Homo sapiens: one gene and its partners. The protein of the gene in region 2 purifies or fractionates together with the protein of the main gene of each other region. This does not show direct contact. Each region holds a gene or a part of one and is shown on either strand. Other genes may lie near its edges.

Region 1 (2,632 bases), on a different chromosome or scaffold from region 2:
CTACTCCATGTATCCTTCCACCTGAGGCTGGGGTGGGCGGGGAACGCCCAGGGCAGAGCTGGGGAGCCACTTCACAGTGAGCTGTTTGCCTCCGCTCCCCACCACCGCAGCCAGGCTGGGACACAGGGTGGGCTGTGCACGGGTTGGGCAGCCCAGGCCCCAGCAGCCAGGCCCCTCGCCAGGACCATGTGGCGATCAGCGGCAGACCCGCCAGTCTAAGTCCTGGTGAGTGGTGGGCAGGGGGTGTCACCAGAGGGCCAGGGCCAGCACTGAGGCCTCCCTGTTGGACTGCTGGGATCCCCTCTGCCCGCTCCTGTCAGTCATCCCCCTTGACCGGCCCCTCTACCTCCTCTGCCCCATCTCAGCCCTGCCGCCCAGCCGGACCTTGCGACAAGGAGCACTGGGCAGGGTGGTGGGAGGGAGGGCGTGGGCAGCCCCGAGTGCCAGACCTGTTGGAACCTCCCGTGGCTGCCTCCTGGCTCTGTGACCTCAGGCAGTGGCTGCCCCCGACCTTTTTTGAGACAGGGTCTCGCTCTGTCCCCCAGGCTGCAGTGCAGTGGTGCAGCTGTGACTCATGGCAGCCTCCACCTGGGCTCAGGCCACCCTCTTACCTCAGCCTCTGGAGTAGCTGGGACCACAGGCACACACCACTGCACCTGGCTTTTAAATTTTTTGTAGAGATGAGGGTCTCACTATGTTGCCCAGGCTGGTCTCAAACTCCTGGGCTCCAGTGATCCTCCCGCCTCAGCCTCCCAAAATGCTGGGATTCCAGGCATGAGCCACCGTGCTCGGGCCCCTCTCTGTGTTGTCTTCAGTAAAGGGAGTTCCCTGTGGCCCCTCAGGCTGAGCTGGGCTGTTCCTTAACCACATGGCTTCAGTGTGGCGGGCGTGTTTGTGTGCCTGCTGGAGTACCCCCGGGGGAAGAGGAAGAAGGGCTCCACCATGGAGCGCTGGTGAGTCTCCTCCTGCTCTGGGGTCTCTCCGGGGGCTGCGGGGCCCAGGCAGGGCTCACAGGGTTGGGTGGAGCTTGGTTTCTCACTTGGAGGCTCCGGAACCAACCCTTTGGTGCTTGTGGGTAAACCAAGGCCGGTGCCTGCCCGGTGTGTTTTGTGGGAGGAAAGAGGCCTGGGTGCCCTGGGGTGGTCAGCAGGGCAGCAAAGGAGTCCCGAGTGGGAGAGGCCCAGCCGCGCCGTCTCGCCTTCCTCCCTCCCCCAGGGGACAGAAGTACATGACCGCCGTGGTGAAGCTGTTCGGGCCCTTTACCAGGAATTACTATGTTCGGGCCGTCCTGCATCTCCTGTGAGTCCCCGTCCCGCACCCCCTCTAGGGCTCAGGAGGGCTTGGAGCCGACCCTCCCCACTGTCCCACCGGCCGGGCTGCCTGGACAGGAGCCACCCCCACTTACCTCAGTGTTTTTCCAAACAAAAATTCGGGTCCCTGGCTCTGGCAGGGCCTGTGTCTGCTGTCTAGTGTGCAGGATTTGTAAGGATCCACTCCAAATCCGAGGAGCTCCGATCCGTCGCCAGGGTCTGGGGTCAGCATGCACTGCTGGGGGGTCTTGCCTGGGCTTCCTGGTAGGGTGGAGGGTTCCGTGCTGTGTGTCTGCTGGTTACTGCCGGCTGAGGCCAGGACACCCACACGTGGCTGCTTCCTCCGAGCAAGTGCACCAGAGCCGCTAGTGTCCACATCAAGGCTGAGAACACCCAGGACCGAAACAAGCCCCGGTCCGCGCACGTCCCCTGGGTCTGCAGTCTGCCTTGTCCTGAGACTTTGTGGCCTTGGCCCCCAGACCTGGGGCTCCGTTCCCCTTTCTGAGTGCCCTTCTGTGTCCCTGCCTCTCACCCGCTGTCCCCCAGGCTCTCGGTGCCCGCCGGCTTCCTGCTGGCCACCATCCTTGGGACCGCCTGCCTGGCCATTGCGAGCGGCATCTACCTACTGGTGAGTGGCGCCCTCTGAGGTCGGCCCCGGCCACCCCCATCCCCAGCCCCTGCCCTGACACCCTCGGACACGCATGGCCCTTGAAGCCGGCTCTGTAGGCTGAGCCAAGGCTGGGAGCAAGTGTGAGCCTGGGCGTGTGCTCACAGCACGGCGGGGACGCAGCGGTTGCTGCTGCCATTTTTGGCGTGTCTAGTGTGTCGGGTCATTTCCTTGCATTTCCTCATTAACCCGCACCACAGCCCTGGGAGGGGTACTGGGGTCCCCACTTTACAGACAAAGATGCGGAGGCTCAGGGAGGTGCTGTGACTGGCCTGGGGTCACGCAGCCGGCCGAAGACCGTGCCTGCGCTTGGGTCCCATTATCAGGCTTTTCTCACCTAAACCCTATTCGCGCTGATTCATGGGCGGTGCCAGGACGCAGACATTTTCTTAAACTGCCGACACCTGCGTTTGGTTTATGACTGCTGCACCCTGTTAGAAGGCTGCCCATCCCATGGGATACAGTGATCTCTCTGAGAGGCCAGGGATGGGTGGGAGGACAGGGCGCAGCCTGGCCAGGCCTTGGGTGAAATGCCCTCTGCCTGCCCTGGGCTCCGGAACAGACGGCTGCAGGCCACCTCTCACTGCGGGGGTCTCTGGGTGGACAGAGCCCTCAGACTTTGCTTATTTAAATCCTTTTGTCCATAGAGCCAAGT
Region 2 (5,632 bases):
AAAATTTGACTTCCTCTTTTCCTAACTGAATACCCTTTAAGTGCCCCAATTAAGAGACACAGACTGGCAAATTGGATAAAGAGTCAAGACCTATCTGTGTGCTGTATTCAGGAAACCCATCTCACGTGCAGAGATGCACATAGGCTCAAAATAAAGGGAGGGAGGAAGATCTACCAAGCAAATGGAAAACAAAAAAAAGCAGGGATTGCAATCCTAGTCTCTGATAAAACAGACTTTAAACCAACAAAGATCAAAAGAGACAAAGAAGGCCATTACATAATGGTAAAGGGATCAATTCAGCAAGAAGAGCTAACTATCCTAAATATACATGCATCCAATACAGGAGCACCCAGATTCATAAAGCAAGTCCTTAGAAACCTACAAAGAGACTTAGACTCCCACTCAATAATAGTGGGAGACTTTAACACCCCACTTTCAATATTAGACAGATCAATGAGACAGAAGGTTAACAAGGATATCCTTGACTTGAACTCAGCTCTGCCCCAAGCGGACCTAATAGATATCTACGAACTCTCCACCCCAATTCAACAGCATATACATTCTTCTCAGCACCACATTACACTTATTCCAAAATTGACCACATAGCTGGAAGTAAAGCACTCCTCAGGAAATGTATAAGAAGAGAAATCACAACAAACTGTCTCTCAGACCACAGTGCAATCAAGTTAGAACTCAGGATTAAGAAACTCACTCAAAACTGCTCAACTACATGGAAACTGAACAAACTGCTCCTGAATGACTACTGGGTAAATAATGAAATGAAGGCAGAAATAAAGATGTTCTTTGAAACCAATGAGAACAAAGACACAATATACCAGAATCTCTGGGACACATTTAAAGCAGTGTGTAGAGAGAACTTTATAGCACTAAATGCCCACAAGAGAAAGGAGGAAAGGTCTAAAATTGGCACCCTAATATCACAATTAAATGAACTAGAGAAGCAAGAGCAAACGAATACAAAAGCTAGCAGAAGGCAAGAAATAACTAAGATCAGAGCTGAACTGAAGCAGAGAGAGACACAAAAAACACTTCAAAAAATCAATGAATGCAGAAGCTGGTTTTTTGAAAAGATCAACAAAATTGATAGACTGCTAGCAAGAATAATGAAGAAAAGAGAGAAGAATCAAATAGATGTAATAAAAATAATAAAAGGGATATGACCACTGATCCCACAGAAATACAAACTACCATCAAAGAATGCTATAAACACCTCTACACAAATAAACTAGAAAATCTAGAAGAAATAGATAAATTCCTCGACACATACACCCTCCCGAGACTAAACCAGGAAGAAGTTGAATCCCTGAAAAGACCAATAACAGGCTCTGAAATTGAGGCAGTAATTAACAGCTTCCCAACCAAAAAAAAGTCTAGGATCAGACAGATTCACAGCCAAATTCTACCAGAGGTACAAAGAGGAGCTGGTACCATTCCTTCTGAAACTATTCCAATCAATAGAAAAAGAGGGAATCCTCCCTAACTCATTTTATGAGGCCAGCACCATCCTGATACCAAAGCCCGGTAGAGACACAACAAATAAAGAGAATTGTAGACCAATATCCCTGATGAACATTGATGCAAATATCCTCAATAAAATACTGGCAAACCGAATCCAACAGCACATCAAAAAACTTATCCACCGAGATCAAGTTGGCTTAATCCCTGGGATGCAAGGCTGGTTCAACATATGCAAATCAACAAATGTAATCCATCACATAAACAGAACCAAAGACAAAAACCACTTGATTATCTCAATAGATGCAGAAAAGGCCTTCAACAAAATTCAGCAGCCCTTCATGCTAAAAATTCTCAATAAACTAGATATTGATGGAACGTATCTCAAAATAATAAGAGCTATTTATAACAAACCCACAGCCAATATCATACTGAATGGGCAAAAACTGGAAGCATTCCCTTTGAAAACTGGCACAAGACAGTGATGCCCTCTCTCACCGCTCCTATTCACCATAGTGTTGGAAGTTCTGGCCAGGGCAATCTGAAGTAAATTTCTTATGAACTCAGGATTAGGCAAAACTTCTTAAGTTATTTAAGTAAAGACAAACTTACTTGTGTATTTTCTCCCTTTTCAATTATTCCCTTCTATTTTCATGTTACCAATTTCATGTATATGGGATGTATAGATGCAGACAGATGGGAACATGTTTTACAACATGCTTTACAACATGTTCCCATCTGTCTGCATGTATACATACCATATATATAAAATAGTTTTGCTATCTTTCTTAAGTATACATTTAAACATGTGGTCTCTGTTCTCAATTATCTTTCTTAGAAAATGAATAAAGTCCAAATATCCAACTTCAATGAGAATATTAAATAAATTACAGTACTTTCCTACTGTGAAATATTATATGGTCATTAACATGAATGAGGCACATACAGTAATATGGAAAGATGTCCATCACATGTAGTTGAGTGAAAGGAGCCAGTTACAAAACAATATGATCCAGCAAATAAATGTTAGAAACTCATGTATGCAGAAGCATATGGGAAAATATCTGGAAAGACATATGTCAAACAGTAGAGAAAAGGATTGGAAAGTGGGGAAAAATTTTTTTAAGTTTGTATTTTATTTTATATCTGTGAATTGTCTAAATGTTTATAATGAACTCATGCTATTTTTATAATTATAATAATATTAAATGATATGCTGACTAGCTAATCATATTTGATGGTGTCCATTATTTAGCTAGATGCCCTCCCATGCCATTATTTACTCCATTTGATTTTTCTAATTTTATTTCCATTCTCTCTCCCATTACACTGGATTTTACCTTTTCTAAACACTGCCTGTTTTGTTTAATGTTTCCACCTCAACCCAGAGTATCCGTATTTCCCCTAAATTCCATCTCCAAAGAAAATTGTGCATATATAAGATTTCCATATACATTAAAATACTCCATAAAAGGAGAAAAGTAAATATTCAAGAAATTAAATATATATATATATATATATATATATATATATATATATATTTGTTTTTTGAGACAAGGTCTCACTCTCTTGCTCAGGCTGGAGAGCAGTGGTGGGATCAAGGCTCAATGAAACTTCAAACACTGGGGCTCAAGCAATCCTCCTGCCTCAGCCTTCCTAGTAGCTGGGACTACAGATGTGTACCACCACATCTGGCTTTTTTTTTTTATTTACTGTAGAAACAGTGTCTCCTTATGTTTCTCAGGCTGATCTTGAAATCCGGGGCTCAAGTGGTCTTCCTACCTTGACCTCCAAAAGTGCTGGGATTACAGGCCTGAGTCACTGTGCTTGGCCTATATTTTGAATCAACAAGCTTTAATACGTTTTAATTCATTACTTCCTGAATTGCAAGGTGTCAAAAAATAATAAAGTGTAGTTACACAGTTCTTGAGCAGATAACTATTTTCCTTGTAAAAAGATAGCTTACTTAAACATCAAGAGTACTATGATAGCCTTGAATACCTTTTAGAATGAGACAGGACACAAAAAAAGAAAAATATGCATAGCACCCTACAAATGTGAAAAAGCAAGAGATATGTTTCTTACCATTGTGAGGGTAAATGGATGATTTTCTAATGCAGATACACTGGGACAATGTAGAGTAATATACTAAAAAGCAACAAACAGATAAGTTTTAAATGACCAATTAAGAATTTCAACTATTTCAATGATGCTATGTTTGCTAAATTCCAAAAATTACATAAGGATAAAGGCTATTTAAAAAGTTGCTGACCACTGACTCACCTGACCAGGTCTTGCTTTAAAATTTTCTTTGACCATTCGGATTTCCATGACATCTGAGGGATGACTCATGACCGAAATGATGGTGACTGGCTTATTGCTCCGGATATACCTGTAAAGTCTTTCGGCACAGTACAGGCACAAAGGTCCAGAAATCCAAAGCCAAGTCTAAGACAAATTTTTGAAAATATACTTCAAGAAATACTCATATTGTAGAAATCTACACCCTGCCCAATTGCTTATTGCATACATTACAGTAATAGTATTTTAATTTGTATTTTAAATAAGAAAACATAACAAATGAGTAAAAAATAATAGATGCTCACTATCATTCAAACAAACAAAAGTATAAAATAAAACAGAAAGTAATATCAAGACCCTACCCTCAATCTCATGCCCTGGGTGTAACTATCCATGAGCAAACAAGTATATATTCTTTCATACACCTTTCTATGCCTACAGATATGTAATGTATATACACAATATATTTAATAAAAGAATAAAGGGGAGTTAACAATCTCCGATAAATCTGGGGATAATTTTAGAAATAAGGTAACAGTCTAATGTTTATTAAATAAGAAAACCCTAGATTTTTAATGTACATAATGTATATGCATAATATACATACATATAATATGTATATATATATATGTTAAATATGTATAGCACATATGTTTAAAGATGCAATATGCTAGGCATGTTGTTTACCACTTACTTTTATATAATATAATAAGAACATAAAATAATATTTATAATTTGGAAACCATGACAGTTTTGAATATGTGTTGCATGGTTAGCCCTGATCCCAGGACACATGCAAACTTTGGGAAGTGCAGAAGCCTATGTGGCTTACTGTTCTCCTAAAATTACACACTTTATCTTTCACATCCCTTTGAGGCCTCCAACTAAAACTTGTCTTAATGGTCACTTTTTAAAGCCTCACTTTAGTTGTTTCAAATCTTCCTTCTTTCATGCAGACAGACCATGCCTCTTCTGCATATAATAACATTTAGCCCCACACTGTGTTATGAGTAGCACTACAAGACAAGGTCTGCAATGTAGCAGCCTTGCACCTTTGAGACAATCACTTACTCTTTGAGTGTCAGGTCCCACATGAGCAAAATGGGAGTCGCCATACCTGCCCTAATATTTGTGAATATTATGTGAAACTCAGAAAAGTTCTGAAAATTATAGAGGCTAATAGGGATCTAGAGGATTATTATTAATAATAATAAACACGACTAATACACTATTCCAAAGTCATCTACAAATTCATTCTAGCTTTTGACTTCTCTTTCTTCTCTTCCAATAGAGACATTTGACATCACTATTTCCTACTTCCACTTTTTATAGGTGAGGAATAAAAGGTGTAATTTGCACGGGGGCAGTTCTCACAGGCACAGAGGAAGATAAGGGCCCTTATTGAACTAATCGCTGAATACTTATGGACGTTTACCAGGAGCAAGCATATTAGTCAAAGACCTGGGTTTACATGCTTCCTCTGCCACTTACTGGTTTGGAGATTTTGATCAAGGTAAGTACAATTTCTTTATCAGAAAATCGAGGGTGATATTAATTACTTCAAATAGTCATTGCGAATATTGCAAGAAACATTCTGTATGTCTAATAAGTGTTCTGTATTAGGCATACAGGACATTTTAGCACAATGCCTGGCAGATAATATTAAGCATTCAATAAATTGATTTTGCTATTTACTATTTACAATATTATACATAATAATATAATACAATAAAATAATAATTTGTGGTATTGGTGGTAGGTTTTTTTAACTACTATTTTTATTATTCAATCAGCTTTTCTCAAATGATGGGAAAAAATATTTGTCATCTCTTGGCTGCAAGCACCAATGCTGTTG
Region 3 (3,500 bases), on a different chromosome or scaffold from region 2:
TGACAAGGGGGTGGAAAAAGTGTACTGACCCCAGGCTAGGAGGGTTCCATCCTCAGCACAGCCAACCTTCTCACTTGCAGATGAGGAGGTGAGGCCCTGAGAGGGGAAGGGACTTGCCCAGGGTCACCTGTAGGCTGGGGTTGGAGTGCAGGCCCCACCTCCCAGCCAGGGCTCTCAGTGGCTGTGCCCTCCCTGGGGCAGGATGTTTAGGGCCACACCCACTCACCTTGGTCAGTGAGGACTCAGCTGCCTCGAATCCCAAGGCCTTCACCAATGACACTGGGACCCCAGATCTTAATTTGCCTGAAATAACAAATGTGGTCAGAAACTGATGGGCCTGGGGTGAGACTGGGCAGCCAGGGGCAGGCTCAGGGTTCCTGAAGGGGAGCCCCGGCCTGGCAGGCCTGATCAGACAGCCCCCTCTGCCTCTGCTCGCCTGTTCTCTGGCCCCAGCATTGACCCAGCCTCGTCTACCCTCCCTTTGCCTCTGGCACTGGCTTCTGGCCCCTCACAAAATGCAGTCCTCACATTCTCTTACGCTCTTGCTCAAGAACCATCAGGGGCTCCCATTATCCCCAGCAGAGGTTTCTATACTTTGAGATTTTTCCAGTCTAATAAAATAAAGAAATTAAAAAGGTGGAACTGTATAGGTTACAAACCCTTCCCACCCCTCATTCAACCTGGGGCTGAATTAGAGTGTTGGGCACTGACTGTGCCAGGCACCTCCTGATTTGTGCCTCTGAAGAAGGTACTTCTACGTCCCCATTTTACAGATGGAGAAACTGAGGCTCAGAAGGATTGTGCAGCTTGACCAAGGCCAGGCACTAGCAAGAGGGGGAACAGGGTCTGCTGAGGCGCCTCCAGTTGTCTCTTACACCTCTGTCATTGCTCTCATTGTCTGCTTATGCCTCTGTCTCCTTCCAGCCCTGCAAGTCTGGCCCACTGCTTGGTTCATCTTTACGAGCCCAGCCTCTGGCACTAGCAAAGGAATTGGGCTGAGAAGGTTCTTGGGAGGAGGCAGATTTTGAAGTAGGCTCTGAGGGATGGCTGGGAGATGAATGAAAGGGGCCCCATTCATGGAGATGAGGGCAGGGGAAGTAAAGCCAAGCCCTGGGGAGAGAGGGGGCACAGATGGCAGAGGTATGCACCATTCTGGTTCGGCAGCAGGATGGAGTGGATGATCTCAGTGATGATGTTTTTCAGAACATCAGGCTGTGAGAGAGAGAAGGGGCACTGTCACCCTGGTTGAGCATCTGAAGTTCCCCCCCATCATTCTTCGTGGGTGTGGCTCCTCCCCATGGGTGAGGTGGCTGGTGGAGATGTAGGAATTCCAGGTCCCCTGCTGATCAGAGCTGTGGGGGCTCCCAGGGACCAGATGGGCTGGGTTGGGGCATGAACTCAGCCGCCCCTGGGGCCTGGTAGATGGGGGGATTGGGGTGCATTGGAGGATGCCCCATCCTCAGGGGCCCCACCACTCTGTTGCAGCTGAATTTGCCCTGAGGGAATTTTGCCCTGCATTGCCTGAACTTCTGACTTCTGGAGGGAAGCCAGAAGTCCTGATTTGCATGTGGAACTCTCCGTGTTTTAAAATATTAGTCACCGGGCATGGTGGCTCATGCCTGTAATCCCAGCACTTTGGGAGGCCAAGGCGGGCAGATCATGAGGTCAGGAGATCGAGACCATCTTGGCTAACATGGTGAAACCCTGTCTCTACTAAAAGTACAAAAAATTAGCCGGGCGTGGTGGTGGGCGCCTGTAGTCCCAGCTACTCAGGAGGCTGAGGCAGGAGAATTGCTTGAACCCGGGAGATGGAGGTTGCAGTGAGCCAAGATCACACCACTGCTCTCCAGCCTGGGCGACAGAGCGAGACTCCATCTCAAAAAAAAAAAAAAAAAAAGTCAAAAATAGTGAAAAACAAATCATAAAAACCAGAGAAAACACGCCAGACTGAGGTATTGGGGTTCGGTCTGAATCCCAGCAGGAAAGGGCTGTCTAGGGGCACTGAGGCGCGTCTACGTGTGCAGAATGAGATTGTGAGTCAAGGGCACTTGTGTTCTAATTCAGGATCAAAACTTCACTGAAAGAAAGTGTGTATCTGTGAGTGTATTTGTGTGTGCGTGTGTGTGTTCTCAGCTGTGTCTGACACGTGGTGGCTTCTCTGTAAACACTCGAGGGAAGTTGGACTTTGGTGGAGACCGGCCAGCCCCCCATGGTGCTTCTGTGGGGACCTTGTTTGAAGCAAATCCTGGGCAATATCTGTTTTGAGAGTGGACCATTCCAGGCCACCCCCTGTGCCCTCAGGCACCACCTGTTAACACTTACTTGGAACCAGCCAATCCCAGAGTTCATCAGCTGGATCCGATCAGAGCTGCAATGGAAGATGCCTGTGAGAGCGGCCCCTGAAGTCCCACTCATTCACCATCCACTCATTCAACAGCGATTTATTGAGCACCTATTATGTGCCAGGCACAGTGCGGGCTCCAGTGAACCACATGAAGCCCTTGCGTCGTGGAGCTTGCATTCTAATGGCAGGGGTGGGGTGGGGGGCATAGAGGGGGCACAGAAAACAAATAGCAGTCCAGTGAGCAGAAAAATCAACCTCAGGAGTCAGGGCTGTGGTGGACAAGGAGGCCCAAGCTCCTTCAAAGGGCGCCCCAATTCCTGGCTCGACAGTTTGTTGCTATGTAGGATTGTGGGCACAGGGCAGCCAGATAGTCTGATTTGATATGTGCACAACTCATTTATATTAAACAGCCCAGCCCTATGTGGGCTGATCAAAAGAGCCCTGGGCCTGACTTGTCCCCAGAGGCTCCAGCTGGCAGCCCCTGCACTCACTCTGGGGCCACAGGAAAGTGGCGGGGAGGGAGAACAGGCAGGGTGCAGGAGGCAGCTGGAGCCCTGCACTTCTGTGCCGGGTGACTGTCACTGCCACGGCCTGGGAGGTGTCCAGAGTGGGCTGGCCGCGGCTAGGGTTTGCCTGTGCCGTGGCTGCTGCAAGGCCTACTTCATTTTCCTCCCCATTCCCTCACATGCAGTCCTTGTCAGCAGGAGCATCCGGAAGGACCTCCCTGCCTACCCTGGAGCCGCCTTCACCTGACAGCCACAAAGTCGGTGTTTAAAGAAACCCATGGTTACCAGGCGGGACTCATTTCCATCAGCAGAATCTTCATGATGATTTGTGTGTTTACCTGATGTTATTCAAGTTGAGTATAAGTTGGTCACCTTTGGTGTAAAACTGAGCTTCCGAGCTGGCTTCCTGCAACAAGAGAAGCCCAGGCCCCATTGTTCTCAAGAGGATCCGAGTGTGGAATTAGGGGTTATGCAGGGAGGCTCTGGGGTCTGAATCTCAGTTCCTGGCTCTGGGACCTTGGCAAAGGGTTTGACCTCTCTGGGCCTCACCTGCCTCATCTGTTAAATGAGATAGTACTTGCCTCCACTCCCCATTTAACAGATGACAGTCTAGGCTTGCTGTGGGGAATGATAATGATGACGATGACGAC
Region 4 (3,500 bases), on a different chromosome or scaffold from region 2:
GGAGCGGCCACGTTGGTAGCCCCACTGCACATCATCACTCCTCTTCCCAGCCCATTTTGTGGGGCAGAGGACAGGAGGACAAGGGGGTGACCCCACCAAACAGTCTGACTCTTCCCACTTCTCCCACAGGCACGTTTTGGATTCTCAGAGTATAATTGCTCAAGCGGCACCTCATGAAGAGGAACAAAGGTGACTATTGTCTGATAGAGCCGTAGGTGTCTGGAAGAATGGCCCCCTACCCCTTCCTTGTCCCCTCCCCAATGCAGAGGCCACAACTACCAGCTTAGCCTTTCCTGTCTGGGCCCTGAGACCGGAGCAGATCCAGCTCAGGGTCATTCCAGGAAGACCCAGTGCAGCAGTGTGGCAGGTGCTGAGCTGTCTCTGACCTTGGACCTCATTCCGAATCACTGGGCTCTTGTCTTGTTCCTAGGACCCACCAGTATCTGAAGCCTGACATCCTTGCCCCAGGTCTGGGCTCCCACTCCAGGATTCTAGTTTCCTCAGAGCAGCAGCCTTGCCATACCACCTGGCCCTGGCTCTGATGTCCTTCCTGAATCTAGCCCAACAGCAGGGGAATGGGCAGAGAGCTTTGAGCCAACGCAAGCTGTCCTTAGCTAGAGAGGGGCCCAGCATGGGCAGTGGGGAAACTGGGAGGCTCAGAGTCAGGGGTACATGGGTTACACACCAGCTCTACCCTTCAGCACTGGGCCAGCGCAAGCATGTCACTTAACCTCTCTGAACCGCACCTAAAGCAGAGGGGTAATTAATTGTAATAATAGTGATGATGATGATGATGATGATGATGGTGATAGCTATAGCTACCCTTTATTGAGCTCCAGTGGGTTGCTGTGAGCACTTTACCCCTTACCTTCTTAAGTCATAATTGTGCTAATATTGCTGAGCGCTTACTGTGTGCCAGGTACCATTTAAAGTGGTCCTCACATTTGTTTACTTCATTTAATCCTAGCATGACCCTCAGAGCTAAGAACTTAATCTCATTTACTCATTTACTCATAACAATCCGGCAAGGTAGGACTGCTTACAACCCCAGGTCCAGGTTACAAAGCACAATGTAATGATCTTTCACCAAGGCTGCTTCTGAGTATAAATGAGATCTTTCCCATGAATCTGATTGGCCCGTAGTCGGCAGTGAATGAACAATGCTCTTGGTATCTTGACCACCACCACAACTGCAGCCTACTGCCCCTGCTACCCTAAACACAGAGGCATTCTGGATCACCAGGTCACTGTGCTTTGACCCTTGTCAGTGTTCAATGTAAATTTGGATGGAGGGCCGGGCGCGGTGGCTCACGCCTGTAATCGGAGCACTTTGGGAGGCTGAGGCGGGTGGATCAGTTGAGCTCAGGAGTTCGAGACCAGCCCGGGCAACATGATGAAACCCGGTCTCTACTAAAATACAAAAATTAGCCAGGCACAGTGGTGGACACCTGTAATCCCAGCTACTTGGGAGGCTGAGGAAGGAGAATCACTTGAACCCAGGAGGCAGAGGTTGCAGCGAGCCAAGATTGTGCCACTGCACTCCAGCTTGGGTGACAGAGAGTCGGTCTCAAAAACAAACAAACAACAACAAAAACATTGGCTGGAGGATTGACATGGGAACCAGTTGCCCACAGACGGCTCCATTGCCAACACTTCTGAGCTTCACTGTGCCACCCTGACTTGTTTTCTATGAAGTCTTGAGCTCTGAGCCTCAGTTTCTCTTTTAACTAATGGGGATATTAACTTGCTTGTCAGTGTGCTTTATAAGCTGCTTTTTAATTTAATGTGTTAAGTGTTCTCTATTTTGCCTTATTCTAGGAAGAATTTCAAGTGGCTTGCAAAGATTGATAAAATACAGCAAAAGTGTTATATGTTGGAACTAAAAGAGAAGGAATATTTAAAAACGAGGGAGGCAGAAGTAAGGCCCAGAATGCAAGTCTGTGTTTTCTGTTGGCCACAGAAGAGGCTCTAAGATCCTGATTCTCTACCCAGGCTGCACAGTAAAATCTCCCGGGCAGCTCTTAGACACCTTGAAGCCTCAGCCACGGCCCAGACCAGCGGCAGCGCCATCTCGTCAGGTGGGGCCCAGGCATCAGGGTTTCTGGTGCAGCCAAGGTTGGACACTACTGTTTTGGGTGCTATTCTTGGGGCATCTGCTCTGCGCTAACTCACACAGTTTCTTAATACGTCTATCTTTGGTGTTGATCTTTGATTTCATACGGTGGCTTTGCTAAACTGGAAATGAACAACAGGAAAATGCGTGTCTTGGAGGTGACTGCGACATCGGGACTTTAGGGCTCCTTTCTCAGCACACCCGCATGTCACCCCTTGCGGTTAAGTGTGCTGACGAGAAGACACCATCTGGCAAACAGCCTTCGGCTCCTGGTGCTGCCTTCCATGCCTGGGACGGATGGCCAGGGTGTGTTGGCAGGTGGCAGAGTGTGGAATGCCTATGGAATGTCACATCAAATCCCCGAGCAGAGGGCCTTTAATGCTGTATGCCCAGGGAGGGAGTGATGAGCTCGGGGCTTGCTGGCCATGGGCTCTGCCTGGTGGCAGAAGCTGCTGGGAACCAGGCTTTAACCCTTTGTTGCTTAGCCCTAAAAAGTGGCCCAGGCCCCTCTGAGCCTTGGGGGACAGAGGGAAATGGGGCCCGGGGGTGGAGGTTGAATAACCAGGGAATTCGCCCTGGGAATCCACGTGAATCCAAGGTAGATGAGTTTACAGGAACATCAGCCATGGACACAGTGTTCCAGGCAGGACGCGCCTTACTCTCTGATCATCCGCAAGGCCACCTAGTGCCCCTTCAGCTTCTCCTCCAGCTGGGGCCAGACTGCCAACACCTCTGGGTTCACTTGAAGGCAGCCCAGATGAAGGTCCCAGCCCTGCCGCTATCTCAAAAATCACTTCCATATCTGACCTTGGCTTCCTTCTCTGTAAAACCAGGGCCTGAATTAGATCAATGGTCCCTGCAGCTATAGACAGGCTGTATCTGATTTGCTCAGGGAGCTTTTCAAAGAGACAGTGGGGCTCCTTCTCTCCTGGAGATTCTGATTCACCGGATCTGATATGGCATTTTAAAAATAGCCCAGAGGGACATGGATGTGCAGGCTAGAATTGGGGGGCAGTGGGCCAGGAGATTTCCAAAGTGCACCCACTTCCCGTGTGTTCACTCTGGATCTCTCTGGGGTCAGGCTCAAGGTAAACTGTGTTTGCCCAACTCTGACTGATGCCCGATGATTTGTGGAACTCAAGAGAAAGGAGCCGTCTTGTCCATGCCCACTGCCTGGCTTGAGCTGCTGTCTGAACCGCTCAATCATGGAATGCACTCTCCCTAAGTAAGAGTGGGTGAGCATAGGACGCCTGAGCACACACTGGGTGCAGGCGCTCTGCTAGGTGCTTTTTTCCATTCTATATCCGTACGTATCCATTTTACTGGTCCTCCGACAACCCCATGAGGCGGGTGTAACCATTTCCCATTTTATAAATGAGGAAAATGA

What was found. The genes of interacting proteins can lie anywhere in the genome.
Region 1: the proteins of NOX4 (region 2) and CYBA purify together in Homo sapiens (affinity purification with western blotting, with the first as the bait; one study listed by BioGRID). This does not show direct contact.
Region 3: the proteins of NOX4 (region 2) and BPIFB1 purify together in Homo sapiens (affinity purification with mass spectrometry; one large-scale study listed by BioGRID and IntAct). This does not show direct contact.
Region 4: the proteins of NOX4 (region 2) and ASB2 purify together in Homo sapiens (affinity purification with western blotting; one study listed by BioGRID). This does not show direct contact.

What each region holds. Positions count from the first base shown.
Region 1 is NC_000016.10:88,645,422-88,648,053, reverse strand, and holds part of CYBA (cytochrome b-245 light chain), read left to right. Parts: coding exon 1-9; intron 10-878; coding exon 879-953; intron 954-1,215; coding exon 1,216-1,299; intron 1,300-1,856; coding exon 1,857-1,938; intron 1,939-2,624; coding exon of another isoform or gene 2,625-2,632. UniProt on the Homo sapiens protein: Subunit of NADPH oxidase complexes that is required for the NADPH oxidase activity that generates, in various cell types, superoxide from molecular oxygen utilizing NADPH as an electron donor.
Region 2 is NC_000011.10:89,396,456-89,402,087, forward strand, and holds part of NOX4 (NADPH oxidase 4), read right to left. Parts: intron 3,925-5,632; coding exon 3,760-3,924; intron 3,625-3,759; coding exon 3,562-3,624; intron 1-3,561. UniProt on the Homo sapiens protein: NADPH oxidase that catalyzes predominantly the reduction of oxygen to H2O2. Can also catalyze to a smaller extent, the reduction of oxygen to superoxide. May function as an oxygen sensor regulating the KCNK3/TASK-1 potassium channel and HIF1A activity.
Region 3 is NC_000020.11:33,303,714-33,307,213, reverse strand, and holds part of BPIFB1 (BPI fold-containing family B member 1 precursor), read right to left. Parts: intron 3,257-3,500; coding exon 3,189-3,256; intron 2,369-3,188; coding exon 2,323-2,368; intron 1,213-2,322; coding exon 1,149-1,212; intron 304-1,148; coding exon 227-303; intron 1-226. UniProt on the Homo sapiens protein: May play a role in innate immunity in mouth, nose and lungs. Binds bacterial lipopolysaccharide (LPS) and modulates the cellular responses to LPS.
Region 4 is NC_000014.9:93,942,071-93,945,570, forward strand, and holds part of ASB2 (ankyrin repeat and SOCS box protein 2), read right to left. Parts: intron 1-3,500. UniProt on the Homo sapiens protein: Substrate-recognition component of a SCF-like ECS (Elongin-Cullin-SOCS-box protein) E3 ubiquitin-protein ligase complex which mediates the ubiquitination and subsequent proteasomal degradation of target proteins.